Regions from separate parts of the Homo sapiens genome. Here region 1 is linked to region 2. The links come from fine-mapping of genetic effects on gene expression. A gene starts in region 2. The other region holds a variant in brackets. All regions are shown on one strand. Distances are from middle to middle.

Region 1 (5,361 bases), 110 kb after region 2:
TCTCACGAAGTGCTTTTCCTGGAGTTCCCAGCACCCTCAGTTCTAGTGCCCCTGCGTGTGGGTGGTCCCAGCATTCGGTTCTGTAGAATCAGGTGTGTTCTCTAATGCTGGGACTTTCTTCACGCTGTACCCAGAGGTACAGCAGTAGAACTGCGTGTCAGCGGTAACAGCGGCTGCCATCGAGTGTGTCGGCTAGGCGCTGAGATGTGCTCTTTGAATATGGGATCTCTTTTTGACTCTCCGGAACCCAGGGAGGTGGAGGTGGGGCATCTCCAGCTTGCATGTGAGGAAGCGGGAGTTGAGAAGCAGCAGGCAGGGCCAGGCAGGGCCGGGCCTGGGGCCTGGTGTCCGACCGCAGCCCAGCCCCCCTCATCGCCTGACACTCTGCCTCTGCACACAGGGCAGTGCCACACGCACCTCTCTGCAGAACCCCCCAGCTTACCCGAAAGGGTTGGCCTACCCAGGAAGCCAAGGGAGATTCACCCCAACACCTCCAAACATGAAAGCAGGTGTCCCGGCCGCCAGATTCCCTCGTGAAAGCACTTCAGGTGGTCAGACCGCTTCCCAGTGAGATCCCATCGGGACATGTTTCTAGTGCTCTTCAGTTCCTAGCATTCCCCGGGGAGCTGCGGAAGCATTTTCTCATGGACACACTGTCTCTTGTGAATAGGTTCCAGGTCAGCCCAGGAGAGCCATAGCAGCTGCTGGTGCCACCGTTCAGCAGGGGTGAGTGCCCTGCCTGCAGTCAGGAGGCTTGTGCCCGAGCTCTGGAACAAATCATCACTTAGGATACAGCTTCCCTGGAAAGAAATTAAGTGTCAGGACTTTTAGACCATAAGTTGCTTGAAAGTCGAGAATGGCAGACATAGGGTTGTGGTGTTGCCAGTCCACTGCAGGTGCTCCAGCCCGCGGCGCGGCCTGCGCTGCTGTCTTTGAGGCTGTAGCACAAGCATGAGCTCGGGCCCCCTCCCTGTGCACCGGAGACCCAGCCAGGTCCAGCCGGTCTGTCCATGGTGCCCCACCAGCAGCATCGTGCTGGGCAGTGCCGCCTGCAGAGTCATGGAGCCTTAGTTACTGAGCAGGTGCACGTGGGGGGCTTGGAAGGCCCCACTGCATTACCATGCCAGCTATCACACACCCCGTGCCAGAGGACTGCATGTGACACGGCTTGATTACGTGGCACTCGCTGCTGCAAAGCAAAGTCAGATGTCATCATGGAAACTCAAGCACCAGTCTTTTTCTCTGAATTGGAATATAGCTGTAAGAATGTGGTATGATTCTGTTCCTAAATGTGAATTGATTATTATGTTGAAACAGGTAAAAACCCCAAAATTTTCTTGTCACGTGTTCCTGTGTCTCTTTCGAAGTGTGTCACCTTAGGTCACTGTGTGGACACAGCAAGGGTGGAGGACGCTAACTTGGCCTTTGCAGTGATGGTGGGGTGGGACAGGTGTTCTGGGGCACGAGGGGCCCCTGAGAATCCCCTGCCTGGGTGTGTTTCTTCTGATTCTGTCCCTCACGTCTCTGTTTTCTCCCTTTTCTGTGCTCCAGAGCAGCCATCAGCAGGGACCCTTTCTACGAAATGCTCGCAGCACGGAAAAAGAAGGTCTCCTCCACGAAGCGACACTGAGCGTGCAGCCAAGGGCGTTGGTCTGCGGGGGCCTTGGAGCTCCTGCTCTTCTCCCGCACCTCCATGGATGCACTGCTGCCGAGCAGAGCGTCCTCTGCCAGGCCCCGCCCTGGATTCCTAGAGACTAGCTTCAGCTTTTGCTATTTTTTTTAAGTGGGAGAAGGGTGGGCAGTTATCACTGGGGAAGAGAGGACCGGCCACCTGTCCAGCATGGGCTCCAGAGCCTTCCTCTCTCACAGGGCAGAGCTCTTGTCGGCAGGGCAGCCTCCTGGCCAGTTTCTCTGCTCAGTGTTCTGGTAGCAGAGCTCAGAGCCAACTGTTTACCTCTTGGTTGTCCCCGTGAAGAAGCCTTCAAACCCTGCACCATAAATACATGTGTCCATATATTATTATATGTTAAGAGAAAAAGGTGGAAAGGAAGAGAAGCCACATACTATAAAGATCTATTTTTTTTTTTTTAAGAGAGAACGTAGGGCTGTTCAGGTGCATTCTGCCCTGGCTGCGCTGGGGAGCTTCTCCCTGGAGAAGAGCACCTGGGGCTGCGGCCAAGGGGCATCAGCCTGGGCCCGCGGCAGGGCCTGGCCTGCCTCTCCTGTGCTGTGGGAGCTCGCTGCCTGGTGCTTGTCTGGGCGAGATGGACAGGTGAGGTCGAGGACGCAGAGGGCAGAGGCCCAGTGGAGCCTCAGACGGCACAGTCAGAGTCGGGGGCCTGCCCTGGCCGGGGTCGCAGTCGGCAGCAGCGTGCAGTCCGGCATCTCCCGCGGATGCTTTTCCATCCCAAGTGCCTGCGGAGCGCCGAGGAGAGGAGAGAGCTGACTGGACGCTTACGTTATTTTCCTCCTTCAGAATCCAAGTTCTTGTTGGGCTTTAAAGTAGAAAGTCAGCATTTTCCTTGAGCTAAATACCTAATAACCAAAACTGTGAGGAAGGTTATCGGGACAGAGGTTCCGGATAACCTGTTTCATTTTGGGTTTTCTTCCTCTTCCCCAGACTCCAGTCCTCGTTCTAGAGGAAGGAGTAGGACTTCCCCGATCCCCGTAGGGCTTCAGCTTTTTCTGCCTCAAAACCAGCCCTAACTGGACTACTCTGGATGCATTTTGTGGTGGGCCCCCTAGAGGGGAAGATGGGCCTTTATCTGCTCCGTGGGGTGCACTGGAGTGAGGGGGGTGGCCGGGCTGCCTCTCGCATCTCTGTCTTCCCCTGCAGGCGCTGTGTGAGCTGGCCCTGCCCCTCCTCATTACAGTATGAAGGGAGCCGTGACACGCAGCATTTTCCTGCCGTTCTCTCAGGGACTCTCAGGGCAGCTCCTGCCACTCCGCCAGGGCCAGCATGCCAGTCCAGGCAGAGCAGGTGGCTGGCTG[T/G]CTGGCCGTCTCGCCCCGCCCCTCCACAGGACCCTGGACCAGGGCGGTGCAGGGCGCAGCCCTGAGGAGGCAGGTGGAGGAGCTGCGGGTTTTCACAGGGCCGCGTCGCCACGGCTCCTCTGATCCTTTAGGGTTGGCGAGCATCTCTGGAAATAGCTTTTGCAGAGGAGTGGTGGGAGGAATAGAGGGGGACAGTCTGTCACCTCCCTCCCCGCCACTTTGTGTAGATCCTACCTGGAGGGAATGGCTTTAGGCACTTTTGTGCCAGAGCTTGTGAGGGTGACAGAAGAGGGTCCAGGCTGGAAACCTGAACTTTCTGGGTGGGAGAACCAGGTGGTGCCTGCCGAGGTCTGGGCGTGTTTGGGCCGGTGCTGGAGCCTGTCCAGCTGGCCCGGGCCCTGGCCTGGTTCTCAAGTGTTTCCTAGACAGAGAGGCACCTGGGTCAGTATTAGTCTATTTATCAGAGGTGTAAATAATCTATGTATAGTTTTTCTCCTTTTAGATTATTTTGTATTTGTTTAAAAGAAGTTTTGTCAAAATACAAAAATATAAAGAAATGACTGAAAGTTGTTGACAGGGTTTTTAAGAAATAATTATTCTAATTGTTTTTGTTTGTTTGTTTTTGCCTTGTAAACTAGCGCCAAGGAACTGCAGCAAATAAACTCCAACTCTGCCCAAGCCATCTTTGTTGTTCGCGGTGTCTCTGGGCTCAGGCGGGGCCCTCGAGGTGGGAAAGGGGTGCTGACCGGACACTTGTGCAGGAGGGTGTTACTCCAGCTGCACCTTGAGTTCAGTTGTAACACCTTGAAAGTGGGAGGAGGGTTCTGTCTTCTGTTAAGAAGAGCAGAGTCAGAAAAGATAAGTAACTTAGTCTTTGCACCGCCCCCACTTTTTTAGAAGAAACGTGAAACATCAGTTTTAAATTAAGATCAAGAAATATGCCTTCAGTCAATATAATACATTTTTAGTATGATTTCAGTTTCCAGAGATGACTTCATAATGCCAGGGAATAAACAGGGAAAAGTCTCAGGTGGGCTAGAACCCAGAAGCAGGGGAAGGCGCTTGGTGAACCAGCACCGAACAGAGAGACAGCAAAGCACCAGGCTGGCCCCTTCTGTGGGTCCATCTCCACGGGCTGGTCCGCGTTCTTCCACACAGCAGCAGTCATGCCTGATGTTTCCTCCTTGCTTCAAGCCCCCAGTCTACCCTGACCATTCCCCAGGTGACTGCCCCACTTTACTGAGAAGAGACGACCATTAGGTGTGAAGGGCAGCATTCCTACCTTTCCACATCAGTCAGAGTTGTTTTTGTTCCCTCCCATCGCCAGAAGAAGTGGCCTGCTTTTTTCCTGTCTCCCCTGGATCCATCTCTGTCAATTATCCTTTGTCTTATACATATCCCCAGTTTCTTTCCCCATTAATTTCTTTCCCTCAAACCACAGAAACGCCCATCTCATTTGAAAACTCCCTAAGCTCAGGAACAAGACAGAGATGTCCACTCTTACCACTTCTATTCAGCATTGTACTGGAGGTTCTAGTCAGGGCAATTAGGCAAGAAATGAAAGGCATCCAGATAGGAAAGAAGAGAGATTACATTTATTGGCTGGTAACATGACTTCATAATGCCTAGCTGAGCCATGGGAACGGGGCCACTCCCAAGGCTCCAGAACTGTGGGACCACCAGCTTGCCGCCCCAGCCGGGAGAGCTGTATGTAGGCACTAGATGCCATCCTGTGACAGCTGCGGCATGGGCAGAACCCAGCACAGGGTGGGGCTGCTCCTGGCCTTGGGGGATCACATTAAGATGAGTCAGAGATCATTCTGGAGTCTTAAGATTTAATGTCTGCCCTATTGGGTTTCAGACTTACTTGGGATTGGTTATTCTTTCCTTCTTGCCCTTTTTTCCCTTTTGGAATGGGAATGTCTATCTCATGCCTGTCCCCCAGTGTATTTTGGAAGTGCATAACTTGTTAAATTTCGAGGCTCTCAGCTGGAGGGGATTTGCCTCAGGATGAATTGTTCCTTGAGTCTCACTCATATCTGATCTAGAGGAGACTCTGGACTTTGGACTTTTGAATTGGTGCTGGAGCAAGTTAGGACTTTTGGGGCAGTCGGGATGGAATGAATGCGTTTTGTACTGAGACTGGCGAGTGTGGGGGAACCAGTGGCAGAAAGCTACAGTGTGAATATCTGTTCCCTCCAAAACTCATGTTGAAATGTAACTGCCATTGTTACAGTATGAAAAGGTAGGACCTTTAAGAGGTGTTTAGCTGAACTAAGGAAAAATCCTGCAATAGTAATACATCCACGAAGTTATTAAAACGCCAATAAAATCCATTTGAGAACAGTTCATCACCCCAAAGCACACCCT
Region 2 (5,361 bases):
GTTTTCCTAGCTTGGCCTCCCAAAGTACTGGGGTTATAGGCATGAACCACTTCACCCAGCTGAAAAACACCAGTCTAATGGAACAATATAAGGGAACAGAATTTGTAAACAGTCATGTTCTCTGCTAATCTGTGATTAGCAGTAATACCAGTATCCCTCCCTCTCCAAATCTATTCAGTTGGTGAGTTCAGCTAAGAGGTCTAGAGTGCTGATAGTAAGAATTAACATGCCATCTGAATCGCTTTTCTTCTGGAGTTCTGGTCTTTGAGCAAGAGCTGAGGTGGTCTGGGACTTGCATACTGATAAGGGAAGAAAGCCAGCTCGAAGATACCTTGAACCTTCTGGTGAGTCTGGGGTTAGAAGTGAAGTAGGGAGTGAAACAGAGGATGGCAAATACTGGGGGAGAGGCTCAGTGCTCCATTAGCCCATGTGACAGATGGTTTGAGAAGATTTGCCAGGTCAATGTGGGGTCAATTCTAAAAGTGTCCTAAGTCTAGGCCAAGAGGAACAAAATGCAGCTGGGTCTCTGACCTCACACGCCGAAGCCCAAGGACACGTTAGGGCCAAAATGTGACTCTCTAAGGTCACCTGTAAAACTGGACAATCTGGTAAAGTCAGTGAAGGTTAAGATCATGAATCCAGCCAGGCGTGGTGGCTCACGCCTGTAATTCCAGTACTTTGGGAGGCCAAGGAAGGAGACCAAAGAGAAAGGATCACTTGAGCCTAGGAGTTCGAGACCAGCCTGGGCAACCTAGCAACCTCCGTCTCTACAAAAAATACAAAAATTAACCAGGTATGGTGGCCGGTGCCTGCAGTCTCAGCTACTCAGGAGGCTGAGGTGGGAGAACTGCTTGAGCCTGGGAAGCAGAGGTTGCAGGGAGTCATGATGGTGCCACCGTACTCTAGCCTGAGCAACACAGCGAGTGAGACTCTGTCTCAAAATGAATAAATAAATAAAAGAAAAAGAAAAATAGTAAAACTCAGGACAGGTGGGCCCACAAGGAAAGAGTTCTGTGGCTTTTACTCCCGTTTTTTGGTTGGTCCAAAAAATTCCCAGCAGTCCAGGGATCTCTGTGGAGTTCTCAGTGAGTGTTCTGTGTAGGGTGCAGGAGCCACAAGTGACTGCAGGGGGAAAGGGGGGTTCTGGTGCTGGCATTCTGCAGCAGTGGGATTGTCCTCTGTCATAAAGAAAGAGAAGGCCGAGCGCGGTGGCTCATACCTGTAATCCCAGCACTTTGGGAGGCCGAGGCAGGCGGATTATTTGAGGTCAGGAGTTCGAGACCAGCCTGGCCAACATGGCGAAACCCCGTCTCTACTAAAAATACAATTAGTCGGGCCTGGTGGCACATGCCTGTAATCACAGCTACTCAGGAGGCTGAGGCAGGACAATCGCTTGAACCCGGGAGGCGGAGGTTTCAGTGAGCCGAGATCGGGCCACTGCACTCCAGCCTGGGCAACAAGAGCGAAACTCGTCTCCAATAAATAAATAAAATCCAAAACGCTGGGACTTGAAGTGCCCTCCTTTCAATCTTGACCCAGGTAAAACTCAGGACAAATAAAAAGAAGTAGAAGCAGTAAACTTAGGACATACAGCATGTAAAGGTTCTGAACGCAGGAGTAAATGACTTCAAATAGCTTTTGTGGCCTTTCGCCAAGGACCGGGCCCTCCCTGGCAAGCTGGGGCCGGGTCTGACCTTCCAGGTTGGCGTCAGCAAGGACCACCCTGCCCTTCAGTGGCCGGACACGACCTTGGGCTTTCGTGCAGTAGCCTGGCTGCAGGCCAGGTCGAGTCCGCCACCCCGGGGACTTGCACCGCCCTTCAGAAACCGAAACCTGCTCGGCCCCAGGAGGCGGACCGGGAGAAGGGGGGGGGGTGTGTGTGTCTCGGGACGGGGGCGTGGTCTAGAGGCGGGGGCAGGGGAGGAGCCTCGGGTGGACGCGCGTGCGCAGGCCGGAGCCTCGGGAGGAGGCCGGGTACCCGGGGTGCGGCGCGCGCGGGAGGAAGGCGGGGCCTCGGGCGAGGGGCGGGGCCTCGGGCCGGGGGCAGGGGGCGGGCGCAGGCGCAGGCGCGGGCGGGCGGGGCGCGGGGCGCGGGGCGCCGGGGGCGGGGCTCCGAGCCGGGCTGAGGCGAGCGGGGGCGCGGGTGGCGCGGCGGGACGCGAGCGGCGAGCCGGAGCGCGGAGCCCGGCTCCCGCACCATGGAGGAGGACGACAGCTACGGTCAGTGCGCCCCGGCGGCGGACGCTTCCCCCTCGCTGTCCCCCAGTCCCCTCCGGGCCCGGCCGTCCGGCAGCGCTTGCGGCGGCTGGCGTTTCCCGGGGACACTGGTGCGGGACGCGGAGCCCGGGGCGACCGGCGGGCGAGCGGTGCGCGGGGCCCTCGCGGGGCGGGGGTCGCAGGGGGTTTTGAGGGATGAGGGTCGCCGGGGCCGGGGTCGCTGGCGGCGCTGAGGGATGTGGGTGGCTGGGGCGGGGGTCACAGGCCGGGCTCGCGGTCTCGCGGGGCCAGGGGTCGCCGCGAGCTCTGAGGAATGAGGGTCGTTGGGGTCGCGGGGCAGGATCTCAGGGGCTCTGAGGGATGAGAGTCGTTGGGGTCGCTGGGGTCCCCGGGGCAGGGGTCGCAGTCCGGGTCCCGGGGGGCCGAGGGGTGGAGGTCGCTGGCCCTGCCGCCCCTCTGCGGGGCTCGGGGCGGACGCGCGGATGGCCGGGCCCGCGTTCCCCGCAGTTTCCGGCCGCTCTCGGCGTCAGCGAGTTGTGCCCGGTCCACGTCTTTGTTCAGAAATGAGAACGGGGAGCGGCGCCGCCGGCGAGGCGCGGGCTCCGGGACGGCCCTGCCCGCGGGAGTCTGGGCCCGGTAGCCGCCGGTCCGGTGCGTCGCCGCCTGCCGAGACGCGGGTGTGGAGCCCGAGGGGCACCGCGGTGGGGACGCCGCTCCTCCCCTGACTGGGGACTTGGCAAGCGGAGCCGCTGTCCCGCTCCCTTCGCTCCCGCGCGTTGAGGCTGCTGGCCCAGGCCAGGGGTGCCTCCCTCCAAGAGTTTGAAATTGCAAGGGTTGCAAAAGGTTGTTTGACATGCTGTAGTTAATTTATTAAGTTTGTTCATGAGGAATTAAAAGGAAGAATGGCAAATAGAACAAGTGGTGAACTTTTGTGGTTTGGTAGCAAAGTACAAATAAAGCAGAACTCTGTGGCCAAATGGAACCCAATTCTAGTTTAATAACTAATGGGACATTTTTCTTTTTTTTTTTTTTTTAAGAGACGAGATCTCGCTCTGTCACCCAGGCTGGAGCACAGTGGCGTGATCGTAGCTCACGTCAGCCTCTTGAGTGGCTGGAACCATACGCACGCCACCATGCCCGGCTAATTTTTTATTTTATTTTATTTTATTATTTTATTTTATTTTATTTTATTTTTGAAACGGAGTCTCACTCTGTCGCCCAGGCTGTAGTGCAGTGGCGCCATCTCGGCTCACTGCAACCTCGGCCTCCTGGGTGAGCTGAGCGATTCTCCTGCCTCAGGCTCCTGAGTAGCTGGGACTACAGGCGCGTGCCACCACGCCTGTCTAATTGTTGTATTTTTAGTAGAGACAGGGTTTTGCCATGTTGGCCAGGCTGGTCTTGAACTTCTGACCTCAGGTGATCCACCCGCCTCGGCCTCCCAAAGTGCTGGGATTACAGGCATGAGCCACCGCGCCCAGCCCTAATTTTTTACTTTTTTAAAAGATGGGGTCTTGCCATGTTACCCAGGCTGGTCTTGAACTCCTAGACCCAAGCAGTCCTCCCACCTCTGCCTCGCACAGTGTTGGGATTACAGGCCTGAGCCACCACACCCAGCCCACTTGTTACCTTATAAGTAAACAAGTAAAAGCAGCTTGTGCATTTTTTTGTTGTTTGTTTTGTTGTGTTTTTGAGACAGGGTCTAGCTCTCTTGCGCAGGCTGGAGTGCAGGGGCGCTCTCATAGCTCACTGCACGCTCTGCTTCCTTGGCTCAAGCAATCCTCTCACCTCTCTTCTCAGCCCCTCCTGTAACCTGGACTACAGGCCTGGGCTACCACGCCCTGCTAATTATTTTTATTTCTTTTTGTAGAGAGGGAGGTCTCCCTATGTTGCCTAGGCTGGTGTGAACTCCAGTTCCTATCTTGGCCTCCCAAAGTGTTGGGATTACAGGCATGAGCCACTGCTCCCAGCCTCCTTTTGTGATTAAAAGAAAAATCACCCACTGGCTGGCCCCAAAAGATTGTTCAGCCCCTCCAGATTTCACTCCTGCCCACTGCTGAGAAGCCGACAGCAGTTTTGCCTGCTGCTCTTTTCTCTGCCTCCTCTTGCCATTTAATTTCCCTCAGATCCCAGTGTCCTGCCTACCAGGCTTTTGTGGCCTCTCTTGTGTTCTTGCCTGCTGCCGTGGGCAGGAAGCTATTGGTCTGGTTGCTTTTAATACAGTGACTGCTTTGCCACCAGGCATGACATGAACTTGTACTTGAAAGAGGTAAGTGGAAGCAGGGCGTGTTAGTTTCCTATACCTGTTATATTACCACAAGCCTGGTGGCTCAAAACAACATAACATTTGTTTTAGGGTTCTGCTGTCAGAAGTCCAAAATAGGTCTCACTGGGCTAAAGCCAAGGTGTCGGACAGGCTGGTTCTTTCTGGAGGCTCAGGGGAGAACCCATTTCCTTACCTTTTCCAGCTTCTAGAGGCCACCTGTGTTCCATGGTTCATAGTCCCCTTTCCATCTTCAAAGCCAGCAGGTAGCATCTTCTCATTTCTCTCGACCTCCTACCTCCCTCTTATTAAGATCCTTGTGATTATAGTGGGACCCACCTGGATAATCAAGGCTAAGGATTAGCAACCTTAATTCCATCTGTTACCTTAATTCCCCTTCTGCCATGTAAGGTAACCTATTCACAAGTTCTGGGGATTAGTACCCGGACTTCTTTAGGGGCTGTTATTCTGTCTGCCACACACGAAGATGAGAAAGTTTGTAAGTTTATTCTTCCCCTTTCTTTTTTTTTTTTTTTTTTTTTTTGAGATGGAGTTTCACTCTTGTTGCCCAGGCTGGAGTGCAATGGCGCAATCTCGGCTCACTGCAACCTCTGCCTCCCAGCTTCAAGCGATTCTCCTGCCTCAGCCTCCTGAGTAGCTGGGATTACAGGCATGCGCCACCACGCCTGGCTAATTTTGTATTTTTAGTAGAGACAGGGTTTCTCTGTGTTGTCCAGGCTGGTCTCAAACTCTTGACCTCAGGTGATCTGCCTGCCTAAGCCTCCCAAAGTGCTGGGATTACAGGCATGAACCACCCCGCCTGGCCTGTTCCCCTTTCTACAGTTTTAAATATCATCCTTTTATTTTGGAGGAACTAAAAAGAT

What was found. PIP is the estimated chance that this variant, and not a neighbour inherited with it, causes the effect.
Region 1: its variant is fine-mapped to the expression of CYTH1 in whole blood (TOPMed, PIP above 0.99).

Annotation. Positions count from the first base shown.
Region 1 is chr17:78,672,360-78,677,720 of GRCh38, reverse strand. It overlaps CYTH1 (cytohesin 1), which reads left to right. Exons shown (of 14, transcript NM_004762.6): 14 at 1,552-3,673. The coding sequence ends at 1,630. Among named protein-coding and RNA genes, the nearest start is that of SCAT1, 43 kb to the right of the region's middle. RefSeq lists enhancers at 519-1,018, 1,019-1,520, 1,784-2,662. The variant T/G (reference allele first, on the strand shown) is at 2,992.
Region 2 is chr17:78,779,061-78,784,421 of GRCh38, reverse strand. It overlaps CYTH1 (cytohesin 1), which reads left to right and starts at 2,149. Exons shown (of 14, transcript NM_004762.6): 1 at 2,149-2,220. The coding sequence starts at 2,199. RefSeq lists silencers at 1,890-2,049, 2,090-2,369, 2,630-3,029 and an enhancer at 4,048-4,147.